7 linked regions of the Homo sapiens genome follow. The protein of the gene in region 4 purifies or fractionates together with the protein of the main gene of each other region. This does not show direct contact. Each region holds a gene or a part of one and is shown on either strand. Other genes may lie near its edges.

The links.
Region 1: the proteins of RAB2B (region 4) and PGGT1B purify together in Homo sapiens (affinity purification with mass spectrometry; one large-scale study listed by BioGRID and IntAct). This does not show direct contact.
Region 2: the proteins of RAB2B (region 4) and BCAS3 purify together in Homo sapiens (affinity purification with mass spectrometry; one large-scale study listed by BioGRID and IntAct). This does not show direct contact.
Region 3: the proteins of RAB2B (region 4) and REXO5 purify together in Homo sapiens (affinity purification with mass spectrometry; one large-scale study listed by BioGRID and IntAct). This does not show direct contact.
Region 5: the proteins of RAB2B (region 4) and OAS1 purify together in Homo sapiens (co-immunoprecipitation; one large-scale study listed by IntAct). This does not show direct contact.
Region 6: the proteins of RAB2B (region 4) and LGALS9 purify together in Homo sapiens (co-immunoprecipitation; one large-scale study listed by IntAct). This does not show direct contact.
Region 7: the proteins of RAB2B (region 4) and PRUNE1 purify together in Homo sapiens (affinity purification with mass spectrometry; one large-scale study listed by BioGRID and IntAct). This does not show direct contact.

Annotation. Positions count from the first base shown.
Region 1 is NC_000005.10:115,252,878-115,256,377, forward strand, and holds part of PGGT1B (geranylgeranyl transferase type-1 subunit beta), read right to left. Parts: intron 379-3,500; coding exon 260-378; intron 1-259. UniProt on the Homo sapiens protein: Catalyzes the transfer of a geranyl-geranyl moiety from geranyl-geranyl pyrophosphate to a cysteine at the fourth position from the C-terminus of proteins having the C-terminal sequence Cys-aliphatic-aliphatic-X.
Region 2 is NC_000017.11:60,684,351-60,687,850, reverse strand, and holds part of BCAS3 (BCAS3 microtubule associated cell migration factor), read right to left. Parts: intron 1-3,500. UniProt on the Homo sapiens protein: Plays a role in angiogenesis. Participates in the regulation of cell polarity and directional endothelial cell migration by mediating both the activation and recruitment of CDC42 and the reorganization of the actin cytoskeleton at the cell leading edge.
Region 3 is NC_000016.10:20,827,027-20,830,526, reverse strand, and holds part of REXO5 (RNA exonuclease 5), read right to left. Parts: intron 3,470-3,500; coding exon 3,331-3,469; intron 3,175-3,330; coding exon 3,080-3,174; intron 2,093-3,079; coding exon 1,990-2,092; intron 1-1,989.
Region 4 is NC_000014.9:21,463,460-21,466,959, forward strand, and holds part of RAB2B (ras-related protein Rab-2B), read right to left. Parts: intron 2,412-3,500; exon of another isoform or gene 2,058-2,411; intron 309-2,057; coding exon 197-308; intron 1-196. UniProt on the Homo sapiens protein: The small GTPases Rab are key regulators of intracellular membrane trafficking, from the formation of transport vesicles to their fusion with membranes. Rabs cycle between active GTP-bound and inactive GDP-bound states.
Region 5 is NC_000012.12:112,913,462-112,916,961, reverse strand, and holds part of OAS1 (2'-5'-oligoadenylate synthase 1), read right to left. Parts: intron 454-3,500; coding exon 224-453; intron 1-223.
Region 6 is NC_000017.11:27,637,688-27,641,187, forward strand, and holds part of LGALS9 (galectin-9), read left to right. Parts: intron 1-575; coding exon 576-667; intron 668-2,884; coding exon 2,885-3,086; intron 3,087-3,500. UniProt on the Homo sapiens protein: Binds galactosides. Has high affinity for the Forssman pentasaccharide. Ligand for HAVCR2/TIM3. Binding to HAVCR2 induces T-helper type 1 lymphocyte (Th1) death.
Region 7 is NC_000001.11:151,025,449-151,028,948, reverse strand, and holds part of PRUNE1 (exopolyphosphatase PRUNE1), read right to left. Parts: intron 3,435-3,500; coding exon 3,276-3,434; intron 1,717-3,275; coding exon 1,622-1,716; intron 164-1,621; coding exon 5-163; intron 1-4. UniProt on the Homo sapiens protein: Phosphodiesterase (PDE) that has higher activity toward cAMP than cGMP, as substrate. Plays a role in cell proliferation, migration and differentiation, and acts as a negative regulator of NME1. Plays a role in the regulation of neurogenesis.

The sequences.
Region 1 (3,500 bases), on a different chromosome or scaffold from region 4:
GTGGAAGTATACAACATAGTATGGTGCCACAACTGTGAATCTCTATTAAATTCCAGATAACTCTAAATTGTTTTCTTGAGATTATGATCAGATTTGTTAAGTACTGTATTTCAACAGAATGGCAATGCTGCATTACAACAAAATCACAGATAAATAAAATATGTTAACAGTATACAAGTACTAAGATTTTCTAGTCCAACACATGTTATGTCAGGTACAACCAGTCACACTAAAAATAAAATGCTAAAAACTCACTCACTGTCTTCTGTGGGAAGGACCTGCAGGGAATAAATCCACTCTATTATATCATCTTTGTTCACCACATCTAAGGAATCCAACATATCCAGCCCGGAGAGTGCAAAAAATGCAATTGTCAACCTAAAAGAAAAAAATGTAAAATTCCATCTTAACTATCATACCACTTAAGTCTGAAGTCTTCCTGGTCTAGAAAAATAATAAAATCATTCTAATTTTCCAATAATTTAAACAATACTTCCACCTTGCAAAAGCAAAAAATATATATATACATATTCTTGTAACTTAATACTATCAGTCAAGCCTTTTGTTTCAATTTTTCAAAAGGGGACATTTGGGGGTTAAGAAACCAATCCTACCCCATTGACACAAACAAGACCCACTGAAGCCAGAATATCACCAAACTGAAGGCTAAAGTAGATTTAAAAAAGGATTCTCTACAACTAATCAGTACAAATAGTACAGGACTTAGAAATATGTGAAAATGTCAATTTTCACTAATTTGTCAGGATCAATTATAGCTTGTATTTAATTCTGGAGGAATATGAGAATAATGTCTTAATTCAAAGGTGTTCACAAATAACATGATTCCTTGGGAAAAGATTTATAATAAGCTTTGAGAAATATAAAACATTTAAAAAAATACAAATGTACTTACACTCTATTTTCCCAGAGAGGAGCATTCTTTGGCAGAATGAAAAACTATAGAGCAAAACCTTCCCCCTCTGAAACTGTACACTATAAATCAGAAATCTAAACCTGTGCTTTCATATAAAAATCAGTATCTTACCGATGGCTTTGAACACAAAGAATTTGTTATATATAATTCCTTTCATGTTGAGAAGCAGTCTCTAGTATAGCTTGATTGAGTACTGTTACATCATTTCCATAATCTAACAATTCATATGACTAATAGTAATAAATTAACACTTCAAATTATCTGGTCTAAAATTTTACAGCAGAGCTACCTGATGTATTCTGTAATCTTTTCAATGAAGATTCTAAGAAATAGTTAAGCCTTAATGTCCTGAGGTATCCACTGTATGTAATAAATTTACTTCTCTCCTGTGCATCTAGAGTACTATTATCTAGAATAGTACTACAGGTTGAGTATCCCTTATCTGAAATGCTTGGGACCAGAACTGTTTCAGATTTCAGATTTTTTTTTGATTTTAGAATATTTGCATATACATGAGATGATACCCCACTGGGACAGGACCCAAATCTAAATATGAAATTCATTTAAATTTCATATACATCTTACACACGAAGCTTATTTTATATAATAGTTTAACAATTTTGTGCATGAAACAAAGTTAGTGTTAAGCACTTATGTGTGGAATTTTTCACTTGTGGCTTCATGTCAGTGCTCAAACCGTTTCTGATTTTGGAGTCTCTCAGATTTTTGGATTAGGGATGCTCAATCTGTACCAACTTTAGGAGAGATGAGAAAATAGTGATTTCTTCTCTTTTTTTTTTTTTTAAGGGCAAATTATCGCTCTGATCCCTGGTGGAAAAAGACTAGCAGCATCCATTAGATAACAGGAGGAGATATCAGAAAGTAATTTAATTCCAACCAAAGCTTAAGGGCAAAAACTAAAACTACAGAGATTTGGGTGCACTTCAGAAATAAATATTTGGGAAACATCCTATTGAGAGACTATTACCATGTATTAGACACTGAGCTGGGACATTTCTCATATATTATCTCAATTTAATCCTAACAACACACTGAGATCTATTTGAATTAGAGAGGTAATTTATCTAGGTAAGATCAGGATTATATTAAGGGCAGTGGAACTCCTTTATGTGGGAAGCAGTGTTGTACAGTAGTTCAAAGCTCAGACTCTGCAGTCAAATTTCAAGTTGGCCAATTTCACTAGACTGACCACATGACTCTGGGCAGGATACCTAAACTTTTCTAATCAGCTTCCAATAATTATTTTAATCATTACTATACCTTATACAGTAATTGTGCTTACCTACTCACAATAAGCACGCAATAAATGGAAGCCATTATCCTTGGTCTTTGCCATGATTTGGAGGGACAAGAGTAACAACGACTTTAGGATCTAATCACAGTCTATAACACTACAGGCCTTTTCTATAGACTCTTGGTTGTAACCATTTTCCCCAGAGGAATGTGCTTCTCCAAACACAATAAACCTTTAGACATGGGAAAAACCTCTACATAATAGCAACAAAGTGTGAAAATCACTGCCCTTGGTGGTAATTATGTCTCATGAGAGAAGGTCCACTTTGTTTGTATGCACTCAAATATTTACTGAACTAATAAAGGACCTGCAATACTACATCTAACCCTCCCGGAGAGCTCTAACAGGGTTTTTTGGTTTTGATATAATACATAAAGTAAATGATTATATTTATAGTCAGGTACAATTAAGCATCTACTAATACAGTTTATTAAAGCGTTATTAAGGAAAAGGGCAAAAAGAAGACAGAGACAAAAGTGGAGGAAAACATGAAGGACTTGAGGTCAGACAATGGATAAAACAAAGATCTTCCTGTCAGTAAAAGCTATGTAGTAAGAGAATTTATGCAAAAGGCTATAAAAACAAGTTGGCATTTTTTTCAAAATTAAGAAATTTAGAAATGATCTAGTCCATCTCTTTGATTTTCTAACTGAAGAATATAAAGCCCAAAAAATTCAAGTAATTTACTTGAAATTTCAACACTAGACAATCAAAACTACTCAAGAAGTCTAAGTCCCAAAGTGGTATTCTCCACAGGGGTGCTTCTCATTAGAATCTGCTTAAAAACTGCTCATTAGAATCTGCTTAAAAACAAACGACCAAAACACCACCAACATAACATAGAGATCAAGGTCCTACTTCACAATCAAATCTATGGGTGTAAGGTGGGGTCTGGGCCCTTTCGGTTTGTTTTTGTATTTAACTTCCCAGGTAATTTTAATGTGCAGGCAGGTTTCAGAAGCACTGTTTGAGAACAGTGGTTCTCTACTGGGAACACTGACCCTAACATAATATATCATAATCAAACATTCTTGGTTGTCACAGTGGAGGAGGGAGTTACTGGCATCAAGTGGGTAAAAGCCACGGCTGCTGCTAAATGTCTACAATGCACAGGACAGGTCCATACAACCAAGAATTATCTGGCCTAAAATGTTAATAGTGCTGAGGTTGAGAAAACCTGCTTTAAGGTCATACTCTTATCTGTATACGTTATCTGAATGATCTGTTTGTCATGTTACTTGCTCCTGGATA
Region 2 (3,500 bases), on a different chromosome or scaffold from region 4:
TTTACTCAGAATTTTTGAGAAAATTCTGGGAAGACAACTGAAGCACCTGAGCTCTGCTTCGTGTGTTCCTTACTACAGCTTTGCACAAAGGTGAATCACGTCATTTTTTGCCTCTTATGATCTCCTTTTCCCATGCTTAGATATTTTATTCTCAGTAAGACACAGACTCACCTATTGCCCTTCTACCTTTCACCTGATGTCTTTAAAAAAAAAAAGTTGTTTTTGGGTTTCTGTTTTTGTATTTCTCGAGACAGGGTCTGGTTCTGTCACCCCGGCTGGAGTGCAGTGGTATGATCTCAGCTCACTGCAACCTCCGCCTCCTGGGCTCAAACGGTCCACCCATGTCAGCCTCCCAAATAGCTGGGACTACAGGTGTGCACCACCACACCCAGCTAATTTTTGTATTTTCTGTAGAGATGGGGTTTCACCATGTTGCTCAGGCTGGTCTGGTACTCCTGGGCACAAGCAATCTGCCCGCCTAGGCCTCCCAAAGTGCTGGGATTACAGGTGTGAGCCACCACACCCAGGATCACCTGATGTCTTTATAGAGGTCAGTGTACTGCCACACTTTTCCTTTTCCCCCAGCACTGATTAAAAGCCCTTCTTCAAACAAGAGCAACCGATTTAGCCCTCTTATTTAAAGTCAAAACTTTCACCTCACTACTGAAAAGATTTATTTACTTCTTTTATATTTCAACACTGGTTTCTAACACACTACACACACTGATAAGTACAAAGTTATTTTTGAATTTTATATAACATAGCTATAATCATTGTAGGTGTCATTCTGTATGTTGTCTTATTTGCTCACTATAGAGAAAATAATTTCCATAGTGTACTATTGCCATAATTTTTATTTATAGCAAATTATTCTATAGGGACCATGATATATCATCATTTGCTTATTAATTGACATTTAAGCTGGTTACAAGTTTTTACACTGAAAATGTAAAAATTTCATATATACTGAAAAGTTCTAAGCTTCAACTTTTTCTTTGTTGAATTATTTTTTAAAATAAATTTTCGGCCAGGTGCAGTGGCTCACGCCTGTAATCCCAGAACTTTGCGAGGCCAAGGCAGGAGGATCACCTGAGGTCAGGAATTCAAGACCAGCCTGGCTAACATGGTGAAACCCCGTTTCTACTAAAAATACAAAAATTGGCCGGGCGTGTTGGCACATGCCTGCAATCCCAGCTACTCAGGAGGCTGAGGCAGGAGAATCGCTTGAAACTCGTAGGCAGAGGTTGCAGTGAGCCGAGATTATGCCATTGCACTCCAGCCTGGGCGACAAGAGTGAAACTCCATCTCAAAAAAAAAAAATTAAATAAATAAATTTTCATAAGTGAAATTATTAGATCAAGACACAGCCAAGGGCAACTACCATCCATCAATGTTATCACAACTAGAATTCAATGAGTGATAACTAAAGAAGCTGCTACCAGTCCAACAACACATGTTCTCTCTTTAGGAGGATATTTGCAGACCCAGAGAATACCTAGGCTCCATGAATTTGATGATTCCCAGAATAGAGCAGGAGGTAGAACACAATATTGGCAGAAAACATTATTTTTTAATGTCTGACCACAAAGTACCAACGCAGGACTCTGAATTAAATGTGGGAAAAAAAATGTTAGAAAGCACTGTTCTCATGTCAACCAAACAGTAGAAAAAATGTCTAACATAGGCCGGGTGCGGTGGCTCACACCTGTAATCCCAGCACTTTGGGAGGCCGAGGCAGGCAGATCACAAGGTCAGGAGATGGAGACCATCCTAGCTAACACAGTGAAACCCCGTCTCTACTAAAAATACAAAAATTAGACAGGTGTGGCGGTGGGCGCCTGTAGTCCCAGCTACTCGGGAGGCTGAGGCAGCAGAATGGCATGAACCCGGGAGGCAGAGCTTGCAGTGAGCCAAGATCATGCCACTGCACTCCACTCTGGGAACAGAGTGAGACTCTGTCTCAAAAAAAAAAAATGTCTAATATAACAAAAAGTTACTCCTATTATTGCTTTCCTAAGCAACCTATGGTCAGTAGGTGCTAAAATGACGACGTCTCACCATTACAATTAGAAATTGTAATGTATCTGGCTCATCTGATTATTTCGACTACGATTGTACACCAAAAATCTACATCTCTACCCTGGATCTCCAGTCTCAAGCTCCCTCCAGGAAAGACTACTTAGTATTTGCTTTGCTTTATTTTATGCTTTATATACATGACACCCTTTAAGCCTCAAAACAAACCCATGACGAATAAGATGATTAACCCGAGTTTACACATAAGGATACTGATGTTTAGAAAGGTTCAGTAACTTGTCTGAAACTAGTAAGATGCAGAGCTGAAATATAAAGTCAGATCTAATATCAAAGACTATGTTCTTTTTTTTTTTTTTTTTTTTTGAGACGGAGTTTCACTCTTATTGCCCAGGCTGGAGTGCAATGATGCGATCTCAGCTCACTGCAACCTCCGCCTCCCGGGTTCAAGTGATTCTCCTGCCTCAGCCTTCCTGAGTAGCTGGGATTACAGGCATGCGCCACCACACCCGGCTAATTTTTGTATTTTTAGTAGAGATGGGGTTTCTCCATGTTGGTCAGGCTGGTCTTGAACTCCTGACCTCAGCCTCCCAAAGTGCTGGGATTACAGGCGTGAGCCACCGCACCCGGCCCAAAGTCTATGTTCTTAATCACTAAGCTACTCTAAGCCTAATGTGCAAAATGTTAAGTTATAACCTCTCTGCCAAATAAAGCAAACACCTACTAGGATCCTGTTGTCCCCATTACATTCTCACTAAATTGATCATTGTTGGATTTTATTCCACTCTATTCCTCAATTCAGATGGCATCTCATTCATTAAGCCTTCTTTGATGTCCTCCAACTGAATTTAATTTTCCTTCTACTATATTACCATAACACTGTTTCTTTTCTCCTTTTTTTCCCACTCAGCTTTTCAGGTTGAAGGCACTGTGTTTTCTAGGATCCTCTCATAAAGCTGGGACACTGGATCTATGAATGTCCTTTTTGAACACTCCAGTTACACATACCCATGGTAGTCAAGGAAGACTACAACCATAAGGAGAAAGTATGGAAACCTTTCCCTTCAGTAGTCCCACTAGAACAGTGCTTCCCAAAGGTACCATTTCATAAGAATCACCTGAGATTCTTACTATTGCTACAAGTTACCAGTTACCATCCCAAATCAATTGTGTTAAGACTCTGAGAGAGGAAATTATTACTTTTAATAAGTATGCCAAGTGATAATTATGTTAAGTTTGGCAATAGTATACTAGATAATCCCAGTAAGGCTATTCTCATTCTTTATTCTCATATTTATATAAAAGGAACAGTAAAAGACTTAATCTTTTATCAGTTAGAGTAACAGGATACCTTAGTTGGCATAAAAATGCTGCTCAATATAAAAGAGATGTAGATTTGTGTTCAGGTACAATACTTAGCTAATATCTAGTTAAGGAGTGCAGAGTGTATATTGCTTTTCTCCCTT
Region 3 (3,500 bases), on a different chromosome or scaffold from region 4:
AGTAATAAAATCCCCTTGTTAAATCCTCTTGGGCCAGGCACAGTGACTCATGCCTGTAATCCCAGCACTTTGGGAGGCTGAGATGGGTGGATCACCTGAGGTTAGGAGTTTGAGACCAGCCTGGCCAACATGGTGAAACCCCATCTCTAATAAAAATACAAAAAAAAAAAAAATTAGCAAGGTGTGGTGGCAGGCACCTGTAATCCCAGCTGCTCGGGAAGCTGAGGCAGGAGAATCACTTGAACCGGGGAGGCAGAGGCTGCAGTGAAGAGAGATCGCACCACTGCACTCCAGCCTGGGAAACAGAGTGAGACTCTGTCTCAAAAAAAATAAAAATAAAAATAAATATTCCTTGGTAGTGGTCATTGGGTTAACACCCACTAAGTGACTGAACACACCATTGTGTGGGTAACAATATAAAAAGAGTCATGAGACCAAAAGGGTTTTAGAACCTATTGTAGTGATTTAGAGCAGAGATTAGCAGACACCAATACATATTTTTTTGTAAATAAATAAAGTTTTATTTCAGCTGTGCCCACCAGTGTTGACATAATGTCTATGGCTGCTCTTGCAGTACCACAGCAAGTTGAGTAGCTGCAATAAAGACAATATGATCTGCAAAGCCTACAATATTTACTAGTTGGCCTTTACAGAAAAAGTTTGCTAATCCCTGGTATACAGAAAAGACAGAATGTGACAGACCTGGGTTTCAATTCTGGTTCCACCTCTGACTGACTGTGGGACCTCAGATAAGTTATCTAACCTTTGGTAACCTCGAAAGGCTCATGTATAAAATTGGAATGATAATAGCTAACTCACAGGGCTGTTGTGAGGATTAAATAAGATAATGTATATACAGCATTTTAGAACAGTACACTTAAGACCTCAGTGAGTGGTGGCTATTATTATCTATATGCTCAAAGAAGATCTGTTAGAATGTCTTTCTACCACCTGACACAAAAGACTATTCTGGCTGTTACTTATTATTCTATGTGGAGTACAATTTATTTCATAATGGAGTCATGATGGAATGTACTATGCAATGGGACAATCTAATAGGTTAGAATGCATTATAATAAAGTTTGTCAGAGACTATGTCCTCTTCCATGTCTCCCTTATGTGTTGTTCTAACATTTACCCACTGAACTGCTGTTGAAACAATTGTATGCTCCCCCTACTCCAAGAAAACAAAAATCTATGCAGATTTTTTATAATTATTAGTATTAACTACAATAATCACCACACCACCAGGATAGTGCTTAGTATATTCAAGACACTGTGCTAAGAATTTTATACACAATATCTCATTTACTCTCAACAATATCCCAGAAAAGTGTGTATTCCCATATTATAGATCCAAAAACTGATGTTGTTCAGAGAAATTGCCCTAGATTATACAGCTAGACATAGTAGAACATATATTTTAAAACAGATAAGCCCAACTGCAGGGACTATATACTTAACCACATTATGCTAGTGATATGGGTCTTAATTCGAAATACATGCTAGGCTTCAATCACACTGCCATTTTCTTTTTTTAGGATTCAATCACACTGCCATTTTCTTTTCTTTTTTTTTTTTTTGAGATGAAGTCTTGCTCTGTCACCTAAGCTGGAGTGCAGTGGTGCAATCTCGGCTCACTGCAACCTCTGCCTCCCCGCAACCTCTGCCTCCCTGGTTCAAGCGATTCTCCTGTCTCAGCCTCTGGAGTAGCTGGGACTACAGGCACGCGCCACCACACCTGGCTAATTTTTGTATTTTTAGTAGAGACGGGGTTTCACCATATTGGCCAGGCTGGTCTCGAACTCCTGACCTGGTGATCTGCCCACCCTGGCCTCCCAAAGTGCTGGGATTACAGGCATGAGCCACTGCACCTGGCCCACACTGCCATTTTCATAAAAATAGATAATAGGAGTTGGTAGTCTGTGATAATCTGATCTAGTCCCATGATTTTAAGAAAAGGTGAACACACTGGGCAAAGATACTAACCTTTTTTGGGCCATGCTTAAGGAAATACCGAGCCAATTCAAGGATTGTTCTAGCATCTTCTGTGGCATCATGACCAAGTCTGTCTGGACACTGTATATCCTTCCTGGAAAGTCAATATAAAATTGACATACTGGAAGCACTTTTAATGATAGGCTTTTTCAACCATCTCAAGTGTTCTGATTACATATAAAATGTTAGAATTCTGATAATTAGATTTGCATCACAAAAATCAAGGTTCCTTTATTCCAGCTAATTGCCCAGCCCTGCGAGAGGAACTGGGGGTGCAAAACAATCAGGAATAGCTTTGTTCACAGCAAGCATAGCATCCGGACAAAAGGCTACCCAACAAAAAGTTTCTGGCTGACTCCCTGGCCAGGCCCTTCTCTAAGAAATGGACCAGGCCCATTTCTCAGATCTAACCATTGTTTAAAGTTGCCTTCCTGAAACTTTTTTATTTGTATATAAGTGTCTATACATACTTAAATACTTTCTTAGGTGTTTTTAAAAAGCTTAATATATGTATATATTTATAGATAGAACTAAATCTAATCTATATCATATAAATATTGAGGCATATATAGATCTTGCTCTGCATCCCTTATTCTCAGGAGTGTCTTAGAGAGGTGTTCATATCACAAACAGATTTATCATATTCTTCTGAACAACAAAATATTCAATAATACAGATAACCATAATTTACTCAACCAGACTTCTAGAATATTTGAGGTTTTCTATTTTGCTATTTTAAACCATGTTATAATGAACACCTTTGTACATATGTGTCTTAATACAATAGGACAGTATAAGTATGTTATACTACCTTGTATAGGCATATAGGTATGTTATGTTTTGAAATTTTGGTTACCTCTTCTGCCTTCATGGTTCAGTTCTGTCCATTAAGCCTCGACTGTGAATGTAAACCCCTGTCTCTATTGCTACAATTTCTTCATTTCATAAGAAATGCAAAAAAACATGTTTAAAGCAAAGAGAGCAGAAACCCTGAATTTTGCAATATGCATTAAATTAGATACTACATGCTAACTTGTATGCAGTTTGTCAGAACAATATTACAGCATATAAGCAAACCTACCCCAAAATAACTTTGGCTAAGAACTTGAGCTTAAATCTTCTGCCCTGCTCTCTGACATAAAGCAACGATGTATCAATAACATATGGATGTATCATCTGAGGAAGAAAGAGAATAAAATGAGTAGTGTCTTATGCTAAAGGAAAAAACAAGTGGGCTAGCAGGGTGGGAGAGAAGAGCCCAAGACTTTAGATTTGAGATAAATGGAACAGGCATTTATACTGAAAATGCAAAGTCCTAAATCAGATACTCACTTTCAGTGCTCTGAGATCCAAATCTAAGGAGTGGCCCACTAACACAGCATCAGGAGGAAGCAGTGCTTTTAACTGCCTCTGTACATCTTTGAGTTTGGTCGTCACTGGGTTAAGAATCTTCTTCGTGATTCCCGAAAAGCTTTCATTAAAAAAAGAGAAATGGACAGGCT
Region 4 (3,500 bases):
TGGTCACAAACTCCTGAGCTCACGCAATCTGCCTGCCTTGGCCTCCCAAAACGCTAGGATTACAGGCATGAGCCACCGCGCTCGGCCAAGACATCCTTTCTTTACCAATTTCTTATAGGAGAAGAGAATTCTGAATACAAGGACAAATAATGGTGTAATCTCTAAAGAGCTTTCCCCACTGTTTTCCAAATAGTACCTCTTCAACATTGCAGGCTGTTTTGGCTGAAGTTTCCATGAATATAAGTCCATGCTCCCTAGCAAAGGCCTCTCCTTCTTCTCTCTTCACATCCCTGCGGGACTCTAGGTCACTGCAAGAGATTAATTAAGGAGAAAATTTAAAAAAAAGATCCAAGTGAAAGAGGAAAGTCTATTTCTAAAAGAATTCCGTCGTGGTTTCAACTGCCAGTTATTTCATAAAGAATGTAGATCCTACATGATACTCTTATACAGAGTTACTGATTTTTGTAGCATCTTGGAAAATATTCTTTAGTTTTGGGACAGCTGCTGCATAGTTGAAGATAATACCTCACTCTATTACAGAGAAAATGGCTTATCAAGGGTTAGGCAAGCCCCCATAGTTACACAAAGCTTATGCTCTATTGCTTGTTTTTCCAATGAGATCAAGGAGAGCAAAGTATAGATGAGGAAAAAAAAAAACTTGGCTGGGCACAGTGGCTCATGCCTGTAATCCCAGCTCTTTGGGATGCCGAGGCAGGTGGATCACGAGTTCAGGAGTTCAAGACCAGCCTGGCCAAGATGGTGAAATCCCGTCTCTACTAAAAATACAAAAATTAGCTGAGTATGGTGGCAGGTGCCTGTAATCCCAGCTACTCGGGAGGCTGAGGCAAGAGAATTGCTTGAACATGGGAGGCGGAAGTTGCAGTAAACTGAGATCGCGCCATTGCACTCCAGCCTCAGCGACAGAGCAAGACTGTCTCTTGGGCGGGGAAGAAAAAAAGGAAAACTCTAGTTACTAGAAAGCAGAAAAGTCATAAGATGTCCCATCCAGCAGTGATGAGCATCTTCCTTTTTTACTGGAATCAAGCCACAAGAAGAGAATGAGCCAGGAATAAGGAAAACACAGTTGTCTTAAGTCTCACTGGTTTCGTTACTAGTGCATATAAAAGCAGCTTGCCACCAGGGAATTCAGAGACAGTGATATGGATAAAATTAGGTGAAAAAAAAGATAAGAGCTAAGGACTGAAAAAGGGAATAAAAATGGCAACAAAAGACCTTATGAAAAACAGGATAAAAGGCTGCAGAGCTGGGCGTGGTGGCTCATGCCTATAATCCCAGCACTGTGGGAGGCTGAGGCAGGAGGATTACTTGAGCCCAGGAGTTTAAGAACAGCCTGCACAATACAGTGAGACCCTGTCTCTACAAAAATTTAAAAATCAGCAGAGCGTGGTGACACATGCCTGTAGTCCCAGCTACGTGAGAGGCTGAGGTGAGAGGATCTCTTGAGCCCTGGAAACAGGTTGCCGTGAGCTGAGCACGTTACTGTACTCCAGCCTGGGCAACAGCACGAGACCTTGTCGCAAAAAAAAAACAAAACCAAAAAAACAAACTGAAGAATAAGGCAAGGTTGGGCTGTTTGTGATTCGTATTTTTCAATTTGAAAATTTTCATTTGGGAGGTTTCCAGTTTTCCAACTCCTTGGAAAAAAAGTGTAAGACCATTAAAGAACAACAAATCTACAATATTTTAATTTATTATACCATCAGCTGTGTGAAGACCAGGGAAGATCTAAATGTCAACCCTCCCAAATTTGTACCTCTAGCCCAGATGCTTGACTAAGCACCAGATTTGTACATTTGTGAATTCTTCATTTCCACACTGATACATAAAACGGACTTCAAACTTAACACATCAAAATGGAACTTCTTTTCCCCTAGCCTGTGTTTGCTGCAGGCTTCTGTATCTCAGTAAATGGCATAAGCCAAAAACCAAAGTGTTATTATTGATACCCTTTGCTCCCTACTCCAAATATCTAATCCATTCCAAAGTGAAGTACTTCCAATATGTACCTTAAAATTATCCTTTCTTTCTCTTTCCAGGGTCACTTCCTAGACCAAGCTACCATTCTTTCTCATGTGGACTATTGCAACTGGGATACTACTTCAGTCCTTGTTCTCCTCCAGAGTGATCTTTTAAAATCTGATCAAGCCACTTCTCTACTTAAAACTTTAAAATGCTTCAGGTGTATTTATTTATTATTATTTTTAATCCCCCATCTCCCAAGCTTCAATTTCCATGTATTTAGAATAAAATCCAAAACCCTTACTCAGGCCTCTAAGGTGCTATAAAATCTGGTCCCTACCTACTTTTCCAACCTCATCTTGCACTATTCCCTCTTGATTTAGTCCAATCACACTAGGTTTCTTTCAATAAACGTGTCAAGCTTCTTCCAAGTTCAAGGTGTTTGTATAGTTTGTTCCCCCCAAGTAATACCCTTTTAAAAAAATCTTTGCCCAGCAGGCTCTTGCCCATCCTTCAGATCCCAGCTTAATATCACTCCTAATCAAAAGTAGGTACCCTGTTATTCTTTCGTAGCACCCTTTTTCCTCCATTGCATTTATCACAATTTACAATTTGATACAAATAATTTTATATTTAACATCTATGCCCCCACTAGACTGTAAGCTGCACAAGAGCAGGGGGACGACTTTTTTCCACCTTGCAAACTCAGAATCTGGCACAGTCGTTTTCAATACATTGACTGATACACTAAAAATAATTAGCAGGATGGGTGTGGTGGCTCACGCCTGTAATCCCAGCACTTTGGGAGGCCGAGGCAGGCGGATCGCCTGAGGTCAGGAGTTCAAGACCAGCCTGATCAACATGGAGAAACCCCGTCTATACTAAAAATACAAAAAAATTAACTGGGCTTGGTGGCACATGCCTGTAATCCCAGCTACTCGGGAGACTGAGGCAGGAGAATCGCTTGAACCCAGGAGGTGGAGGTTGCAGTAAGACGAGATCATGCCATTGTGCTCTAGCCTGGGTGACAAGAGTGAAACTCCATCTCATAACAAACAAATGAAAACAAACAAACAAACAAAAAACCAATTAGCCTGTGGCCACAGTTCTCAAATAGTACACTCTGGGCACTACTACAAACTCACAAGGGTGCCATGGGATACCTCAAACTTTTGAGAAAAACACAGTAACACTCAACACAAGGATACTTACTACATGAATTACAAGCTTAAGACAGTTGCAATGTCAATATCAGACCATGATAAAATTCGTTCAATATCTTCATATCTCTGAGAAGCTGTTTCTGGCAGTTGCTGTTATAAAAAAGCAAGCACTACACAAAAATCAATATGAAATGGGAAATGAGAGTAGCAGTGTGCAATCGTGATTCCAAGGTTTGAGAAGCTATGCAGTGCCCAACAGACACATAGAGGTCTTTAGTAAGTAACTGTTGCTATTTAAGAATGAAATAATTTTTTTTTTTTTGAGACAAAGTCTCACTCTGTCGCCCTGGCTGGAGT
Region 5 (3,500 bases), on a different chromosome or scaffold from region 4:
TCAGTTTACTCACCTGTAAAATAATTGGCATAGTGCCTGCCTCACAGGGTTGGAGGTAGGTGTTTAAAACAGATGGCAGTAGTAAAATGCCCAGTACAATGATGGGCAACAGGAGATTCTCACTAAGTGGGGAGCCCTCCCACCTCCTCCATTTCCAAGGCACTGTACCTGTATCCAGGTGTTCATTTACATAGGGGAGCTAAGCCATGTGGGGATAGCATACCTGGGTTTCGTGAGCTGCCTTCTCAGGTACTTTTCAATAATGGGGTTTTTAAAGTCATAATACTTTGTCCAGTAGATGCAGAGTTGCTGGTAGTTTATGACTAATTCCAAGACCGTCCGAAATCCCTGGGCTGTGTTGAAATGTGTTTTCATGCTCCCTCGCTCCCAAGCATAGACCGTCAGGAGCTCCAGGGCATACTGAGGTGGCAGCTTCCCAAGCTTCTTCTTACACTGAGAAGAGGAAAAACAATCAGAAAAAAATTGGTTTGCTCAACTTTTGTGTAAACTACACTTCTCATGGGCCAAATCCAGCCTGCCACCTGTTTTTATAAAGTTTCCTTGGAACGAATCCAGGCTCATTCATTTATGTATAGTTTATGACTGCATTCATGCTACAAAGGCAGGGTTGAGTAGTTGCAACAGAGGCTGTGCAGTCCACAAAGTCTAAAATATTTACTATCTAGCCTTTTATTTTTTAAAAAAGTGTACTGGCCCCTTGTTAAGAGCGCTGGATTCTTATTGATGTGGGTTTGAATCCTGGCTTCACCATTGTCCAATTCTAAGTAGATGACTTAGACTCTCAGAGCCTCATGATTTTCATCTGCTAAGTGAGTGGTTGTAATAGCACCTATCTGATAAAGATACTACGAAAATTAACTGAGAAGAAGGACTTGTAATGTTCCTAAGAAATGCACAGAAGCAAATGAAATTCTTTCTGGAGGAATATACATAATCCAAAACCTCAAATTATTTCACACATAATTTTCAAATACAATGACCAGCACATATGTAACCAGGCACACAAGGAAACAAAACACTAAGAGTTATGACCAACAGAAAGAAGAGAAATAGTAATAAACCTACAAACTTTAAATGCTGAAAGACCGAACACAGACTTTAAAATAACTAGGAACTCTACAAGGAAAACTACAAAACATTGCTGAAAGAAAATCATAGATGACACAAACAAATGGAAACACATCCCATGCTCATGAATGGGTAGAATCAATATTGTGAAAATGACCATACTCCCAAAAACAATCTACAAATTCAATGCAATTCCCATCAAAATACCACCATCATTCTTCACAGAACTAGAAAAAACAATCCTAAAATTCATATGGCACCAAAAAAGAGCTCACATAGCCAAAGCAAGACTAAGTAAAAAGAACAAATCTGGAGGCATTACATTATCAGACTTCAAACTATACTGTAAGGCCATAGTCACCAAAACAACATGGTACTGGTATAAAAATAGTCACGTAGACAAATGGAACAGAATAGATAACCCAGAAATAAAGCCAAACACTTACAGCCAACTGATCTTTGACAAACCAAACAAAAACATAAAATGGGGAAAGGACACCCTATTCAACAAATGGTCCTAGGATAATTGGCAAGTTGCATGTAGAAGAATGAAACTGAATCCTTCTCTCTCCCCTTATACAAAATTCAACTCAAAATCGATCAAATACTTAAATCTAAGACCTGAAACCATAAAGATTCTAGAAGATAATATTGGAAAAACCCTCCTACACATTGGCTTAGGCAAAGACTTCATGACCAAGAACCCAAAAGCAAATGCAACAAAAACAAAGATAAATAGATGGGACTTAATTAAACTAAAAAGCTTCTGCAAAGCAAAAGAAATAATTAGCAGAGTTAACAGACAACCCACAGAATGGGAGAAAATCTTCACAATCTATACATCCAACTAATATCCAGAATCTACAAAGAACTCAAACGAATCAGCAAGAAAAAAAAAATCTCATCAAAAAGTGGGCTAAGGACATGAACAGAGAATTCTCAAATGAAGATATACAAATACCAACAAGCGGGGTGGGGGGAATTGGGGAGGGATAGCATTAGGAGATATACCTAATGCTAAATGACGGGTTAATGGGTGCAGCACACCAGCATGGCACATGTATACATATGTAACTAACCTGCACATTGTGCACATGTACCCTAAAACTTAAAGTATAATAATGAAAAAAAAAAAAAAAAAACAAATACCAACAAGCATATGGAAAAATGCTCAACATCCCTAATTATCAGGGAAATGCAAATCAAAACCACAATGTGATACCACCTCACTCCTGCAAGAATGGTCATAATAAAAAATCAAACAATAATAGATGTTGGTGTGGATGTGGTGAAAAGGGAACACTTTTACACCATTGGTGGGAATGTAAACTCATACAACCACTATGGAAAACAGTGTGGAGATTCCTTATAGAACTAAAAGTAGATCTACCATTTGATCCAGCAATCCCACTACTAGGTATCTACCCAGAGGAAAAGAAGTCATTATACAAAAAAGATACTTGCACACACATGTTTATAACAGCACAATTTGCAATTGCAAAAATATGGAACCAGCCCAAATGCCCATCAATCAATGAGTGGATAAAGAAAAATGTTATACACACACAAACACACCATGGAATACTACTCAACCATAAAAAGGAACAAAATAATGGCATTCACAGCAACCTGGATGGAATTGGATACTATTATTTTAATTAAATAACTCAGGAATGGAAAACCAAACATTGTATGTTCTCACTCATATGTGGGAGCTAAGCTATGAGGAAGCAAAGGCATAAGAATGATACATGGGACTTTGCGGACTGCGGGGAAAGGGTGGGGTGTGGCAAGGGTTAAAAGATTACACATTGGGTACAATGTACACTGTTTGGGTGATGGGTGCACCAAAATCACCACTAAAGAACTTATTCATGTAACCAAACACCACCTGTTCCCCCAAAAACCTATTGAAATAGAAAAATTAAAAATAAAAAAAAATAGTCCTCTCTCTGTGATCAGTGGTTTGAATGAGGACAGGAAAGGAGAGGTATCAGAGCCATATATGTATACACATGAATCTGTGTGTGCTCATGTCACAGAAAAGAAGTGTAAATAAAACATAAGATTAACAAATAATAAAAATTAAAAATAAAATAACTAGGAATATCATATTCACAGGATAAAATAAGAACTTTAAATAGTTAGCAGGGAATTAAAAGCCATAAGAAGTACCATGGCAGATACAAAAATATGAAATAGAAATTTTAGGATAAAAATGGCAACTGTAATTAATTACAGCAAATTAGATATAGCTAAAGAGAAAATTAGTTAATTGGAAGGTAGATTAGAAGGAACTATTCAGAATAAAGCATGGAAAAATAGACAAAAGGATGAAAAACACAGAAGAGAGTATAGAGATATGAAAGATAGAGCAGGGTCTAACATACATTTAATTGGAATTCTAGAAG
Region 6 (3,500 bases), on a different chromosome or scaffold from region 4:
AAGGTCACAGTGGCCATTGTTATATGGTGGTGGTGGGGAGAGGGGGATGGCTTCTTCTTAACCTCCTCGGGTGAGTCGAAGGTTTACCCTCCAGACCCTTGATGGGTCCCTTTGGTCCCTTGGGCTTCCTGAGTCTCCAGCCAGGGCCTGGGACCTTTGCTGGGAGCTTAGCATGGGGTCCAGCAGCCCCCATTGCTACCTAATTCCTTAGCAGCCCAGGGTGTCTGCCTGCTACTTCCCTGCCTGGAAGGAAGGCCTTCTGCCTGGTGCATTCCTGCTGCAGCCTCCACTGCCTCTTAGACTCTCACACAAGCTCAGCTCCCTGTCGCGTCCTCTCAGGGCCAGGCTTCTCCTTATCACAAGCTTAGACTGTCTGAGTAACTAATTGGATTTGTGTTTGCCTCCACACAGGACCCTAAGACCCGTGGGGCTGCGACTCCCTCTGTACTGGTCACAGCCGCACCCTATCCCCTTGCATGGGGCTGTCAAACCCAGGCTGGCCACTGACTAGCGCTGGAGGGGAGCAAACGGGAGGCCGGCCACCTGACTGATGTTCCCACACCTTCTCCCTGCAGGCTGTCCCCTTTTCTGGGACTATTCAAGGAGGTCTCCAGGACGGACTTCAGATCACTGTCAATGGGACCGTTCTCAGCTCCAGTGGAACCAGGTGTGTGTGTATATGGATGGAAACGTTTCACTCCAGCCTCGTCCCTTAGTAAACCACTGTGCCTGTGAGCCTGGGTTAGTTCAAACAGCAACATCCAAGCTCACGTGCCTGGCTCAGGGGAGGCCCAATGCGTCCCTAACCCATGCCACAGGGCAGCACTCCACAGGCACAACCTGCACCCAGGGGTGCCATTAACCTGGACTCCAGGATGAATGGGGCCCTGGGAGCTGACGGTCTAAGGAGGGCGTGGGATGGTCAGAGTTGGATGATTATGTTCTGGGTTGAACCTTGCACACTGTGACTAAGAGTTGCAAAAATCAAACTTCCTCCATTTCCCGTAACTGCTCTCATCCACTCTGAAGCTCTCCTTCTGCTGATGTGAAAATATTGAAAATTGCCATCAAAAGTAATTTGGTCTCTTTTGGTTTCAAGGCCTTTTCTAGAAACTACTAAGTCAATTCAACATACTAACATTGTATCAGGGCTGTTTCCCACCCCCTCCTCCCTCCCAAGGTGGGCTGTCTGGGAACAGAGAAGAGCTCACATGGCTTCTCAGTGGCTGGGAGGGCTCTAGACCCTCACTCAGGCCTGGCTGACCCCTGCCGAGGCACCCCGACCGGGTGGCACAGAGGTGTGCAGCTCTCTCCTGGTTTAGTGGGGGACCATGGGTGGCTGCCTGCTGAACTCTGCGGGGCCCACAGAAGAGCCTCTGGACTCATGACTCTCTCTCGGAAGCCTCTCTGCCTCAGTCCCAGGGGACCTCTCCTTAAGACCTTCTGGGCCTCACAGATCCCAGCTAAACCTCAGCTTGGACACCTAGATTCTTGGTGACCTCCTCCGCCATTGCCATCCTGCTGTGGGACTTCTCTGAGAGACTGCGGTGCCCTCAGGAGATGCCAAGGGCAGGGAGGCCCCGATCTCCCTGAACCCTCCAACCAGGGGAATCAGGACCATGACCCTGATCTTCCGCCCCTTCCTCTCTCCCTCTCCCTCCACCTCCCCCACCCCCCAGCACCAGGAGGGCTTCCCACTCCCATCCTGTCATATAGAGACAGATCCTACCTCAGAGGGCCCTCTCCTCTTGGGAGCTTTCTGTCTCTCCCTTCCTTGGGGCAGGAATTTCGAAAGGACTACAGGGATGAAGCTGAAGGACTCCAAAGGAAAAAATACATGCAGATATATTTCAAATGCAATCTTCTCCATTTATTCATTTAATTAATTAATTTTTTTCTTTTGAGACAGGGACTTTCTTTCACCCAGCCTGGAGTTCAGTGGTATGATCATAGCTCACTGCAGCCTCAAATTCCTGGGCTTGAGTGATCCTCCCATCTCAGCCTCCGGAGCAGCTGGGACTACAGGAGTGCACTATGATGCCCAGCTAATTATTATTATTATTATTTTGAGATGGAGTCTCGCTCTGCCACCAGGCTGGAGTGCTGTGGCGCTATCTGGGCTCACTACAACCTCCGCCTCCTGGGTTCAAGTGATTCTCCTGCCTCAGCCTCCTGAGTAGCTGGGACTACAGGCTCATGCCACCATGCCTGGCTCATTTTTTGTATTTTTAGTCGAGACGGGGTTTTACCATGTTGGCCAGGATGGTCTCGAACTCCAGACCTCGTGATCCACATGCCTCAGCCTCCCAAAGTGCTGGGATTACAGGCGTGAGCCATCATGCCCAGCCAATTTTTTTTTTTTTAACTAGAGATGAGCTCTCACTATGTTGCCCAGGCTGGTCTCAAACTCCTGGGCTCAAGTGGTCCACCCGCCTTGGCCTCTGCGCCCAGCCCCAATTTCACATGCTCTTTACATTTGTTCTCTTCTTTCCCATTTAATCAGGCATGTGCTGGCCTCCAACAAGTGTCCACTGGCACAGAAGGCTCTCTCTTCTAGGTGTGCTTAACAACTTCCATCTTCGGTATCAATTGGTAATCACTTTCCAAGACCTATGTTTCTTGTTTGCTAATACCAGCACTTTTCCTTAACCGTTTTCTATTTGCTTTTAGCAAATCATGCTGTAAAGGCAAAATCCAATAATTAAAACAAAAACACATTAGATCCCAATTAGAAAAACAAAAACGATGCCAACAAAGCAGTCTCTGCCATACAGGTTGTGTGCAAGATCCAGACAAATGCAAAGCACAGGCGCCGAGGCCCTCCTGTGCCTGTCACTGGCAATAATCCATGCCACAGAAGACTATTTGCTTTCCCTGGGCCTAGGTTTGCTGTGAACTTTCAGACTGGCTTCAGTGGAAATGACATTGCCTTCCACTTCAACCCTCGGTTTGAAGATGGAGGGTACGTGGTGTGCAACACGAGGCAGAACGGAAGCTGGGGGCCCGAGGAGAGGAAGACACACATGCCTTTCCAGAAGGGGATGCCCTTTGACCTCTGCTTCCTGGTGCAGAGCTCAGATTTCAAGGTGAGCAAGAATCCCCTCCCCACCTCTCACCCCTGGGACCCCCAGCCCTATCAGGTGAATGGCCTTTAAGTAATCACCTAAATTGACATTCAGCCAGAGTGACACCACTATACAGATAACACGCTCATTTCCTTGTGAGGTGTTACCCATGGCTGCCTAGTCTCCTTATGCACCTTCATCTGAATCTACAGGTGCACCTGCTGCTTCTTTTACTCTGAAAATAAGAACTAGAGGAGTCATCACGTTGCTATTTGGTGTTGTGTGTCTTTGAATTCCAAGCTCATTCCATTCCTCTGCTATAGCCATTCCTCCTCTCCAGGTCACTGGTAACATTTATTTTTCAGCGACATCGTTCCAGCCTTTATCCAGGGTCTATTAAGGGTATAGTTTTGTAAGCACATTGCAAATTACCCT
Region 7 (3,500 bases), on a different chromosome or scaffold from region 4:
TCACCGTTGTTTGGAGTGCCACATGGGGACAGAAAATAGCCAACTGCCGCACTGGCTCATTGTGAGTGTTGAAAAAGATAGTCATGGCAACCAGGACATCATAGCTGTGAGCCTGGCAGAAAGCATGGAGATCTGCAAGGAGGTTAGACCTCTGCAGAAAGGCCTGAAAGGGAAGAAACGGAGAGGGATGAAGGACTTTCTCATCATCATCAATAAAACATCCTTGGGCCGGGCACGGTCGCTTACGCCTATAATCCTAGCACTTTGGGAGGCCGAGGCAGGTGATCACTTGAGGTCAGGAGTTCGAGACCAGCCTAGCCAACATGGTGAAACCCTGTCTCTGGTAAAAATACAAAAATTAGCCGGGCATGGGGGCATATGCCTGTAATCCCAGCTACTCAGGAGGCTGAGGCAGGAGAATCGCTTGAACCAGGGAGGCGGAAGTTGCAGTGAGCTGAGATTGCGCCATTGCACTCCAGCCTGGGGGACAAGAGCGAAACTCCGTCTCAAAAAACAAAAACAAAACAAAACAAAACAAAAAATTAGCTGGGCATGCCGGCACGCACCAGTAATCCCAGCTACTAGGGAGGCTGAGGCAGGAGAATTACTTGAACCCGGGAGGCAGAGGTTGCAGTGAGCTGAGATCATGCCATTCCACTCCATCCTGGGCAACAGAATAAGACTCAGGCTCAAAACAAACAAACAAACAAACATACATACATAACTGCTAGAGGTTTTTTGAGCATAGGAGATAGTACTTCAGTTAGGGTGGTCAGGAAAAACCTCCCAAAACAAGAGACATCTGAGCTGAGTACCTGAATGTTAAGAAGGAGCCAGCTTTACAAAGAAAAAAGCTCAGCTGGGAATGAGCTTAATGGTTCTGAGGAACAGAAAAGAAACCAGTGTGGCTGCAGTACTGTAGAACAGGAGTGGAGCTGGAATGAGATGAGGCCAGAGAAAAAGACAAGGGCCAGATCAAGCATGGCGCTGTAAACCACAGTAAGTCCTTTAGATTTTATTAAAAATACAATGAGGCCGGGCACAGTGGCTCACGCCTATAATCCCAGAACTTCGGAGGCCAAAAGGAGAACTGCTTGAGGCCAGGAGTTTGAGACCAGCCTGGGCAACATAGTGAGACCCCATCGACACATACATACACGCGCGCGCACACACACACACACACACACACACACACACACACTAGTTAGGTGTGGTGGTGTGCACCTGTGGACCCAGCTACTCGAGAGGCTAAGGTGGGAGGATTGCTTGAGCCTGGAAGGTTGAGGCTGCAGTGAGCCATGATGGTACCACTGTACTCTAGCCTGGCAACAAAGCATGACTCCCTTAAAAAAAAAAAAAAAAAATTAAAAAAGACCACTCTGGCTGCTGCGGGGAGAATGGTTTGTAGGGCTGCAAAAGCAGAGGCAGGGACACCAGTACTGAGGCTAATACAGCGGTGCAGTGAGAGATGCTGGACTCTGGTGGTCACAGTGGAGGTAGAGACAAAGATAGACACAAGATACATTTTGGAGGTGAGCCAGGAATGAGGTGCAAGGCCACATGCATAACATGCATAGCTAAAGGCTTTCTCTCCCCACCCACAGCCACAACTTGCTCTTACCTCCAAATCCATATATATTGCACTAATGGCCACCTTGACGCCTTGTCTATAGATAGTCTTCTGGTCTTTTCTCAGCATCTGCTCAGTGGTCAGTCCTAGAAAGCAGATGAGAGACTAGGGGTCAAACAGGGTAGGCCAGGGTCCCAAGACCAAGAAGGCAAGGACAGCCAGATGGGTCAAGGAAGGAAAAACAGCCTCTCTTTGGGGCAATGAATGGGGGAGATAATTGAAAATGTAATCATAGCCGGGCGCGGTGACTCAGGCCTGTAATCCCAGCACTTTGGGAGGCTGAGGTGGGCGGATCACCTGAGGTCAGGAGTTTGGGACCAGCCTGGTCAACATGATGAAACTCTGTCTCTACTAAAAATACAAAGAATTAGCTGGGTGTGGTGGCGGGCACTTGTAATCCCAGCTACTCAGGAGGCTGAAGCAGGAGAATCACTTGAACCTGGACTCTGTCTCAAAAAAAAAAAAAAAAAAGAAAGAAAGAAAATGTAATCACATAATCAAAAGCCATCTTAAATAACTGGTGACAATAGGTACCTTTAGAGCAAGTAACTTTGGAGAGAAGGATGAAACCCAGAACAGAGGCTTTTACTTTTTATCTTTCCCTCTTCCTATACTGTTTACATGTGAGTTCTTTCTTTCTTTCTTCCTTTTTATGTCAACAGGTGGTAGCTGAGTACAAGAATACAGTTTTTTTTGGGTTCTCTTCATCTTTTGTTTACTCACAAAATATTTCTTTTGCCTCCCTAACCAATTCTATAGATTTCACTCTGATAATTTAGTATACTCTCAGCATATTTTATATATATGTCCTGTATTCTCTGAATAGACTGGAACCTATGAGGCTCTTTTTGTTTTTTTTTGAGACGGAGTTTCGCTGTCGTTGCCCAAGCTGGAGTACAATGGCGCAATCTCGGCTCACTGCAACCTCCACTTCCCGGGTTCAAGCGATTTTCCTGCCTCAGCCTCCTGAGTAGATGGGATTACAGGCACACACCACCACGCTCAGCTAATTTTTCGTATTTTTAGTAGAAACGGAGTTTCACCATGTTAGCTAGGCTGGTCTTGAACTCCTGACCTCAGGTGATCTGCCCACCTCGGCCTCCCAAAGTGTTGGGATTACAGGCGTGAGCCACTGCGTCTGGCCCTTCTGAGGCTCTTAATACATTCCTCCTCATCCTAACCAAGAGCCAGGATAGAACAATCCAGTAAATGACTGATTATTTCATGCTTAGGCTAATATGGTACTTCATTTCTTTCTGGTATAAAATTTAAATAATTGGCCAGGCGCGGTGGCTCATGCCTGTAATCCCAGCACTTTGGGAGGCCCAGGCGGGCAGATCACCTGAGCTTCAGAGTTCAAGACCAGCCTGGTCAACATGGTGAAACCCGATCTTTACTAAAAATACCAAAATTAGCTGGGCGTGGTGGTGGGCGCCTGTAATCCCAGCTACTCGGGAGGCTGAGGCAGGAGAATCGCTTGAACCCAGGAGGTCGAGGTTGCAGTGTGCCAAGATTGTGCCACTGCACTCTAGCCTGGGTGGCAGAGCAAGACTCTGTCTCAAAAAAAAAAAAATAATATAATGAACAAGGCTTGCCTTTCTGTTTTCTTATCTGGGAGGCAGAAAAGTCAGCTAACATTTCATACCTGATACATCAAACTTTGCCTTTTGTAGGGAATCAAATATATCATTTCTCTTGGGTAGGTCTGGGAAAAGGGCCTCTAGTTTCTCCACATATTTGCTGTCCTTTGGGGTTGCCTTTCCAATTTTAAGGTCCATGTTGACACAGTCCAGGATGATGGTTCCTGTGGAGAAGGGAGATGGTGGAACTTGAATCCTGTGACCCTTCACACACAACCACCAGAACATAT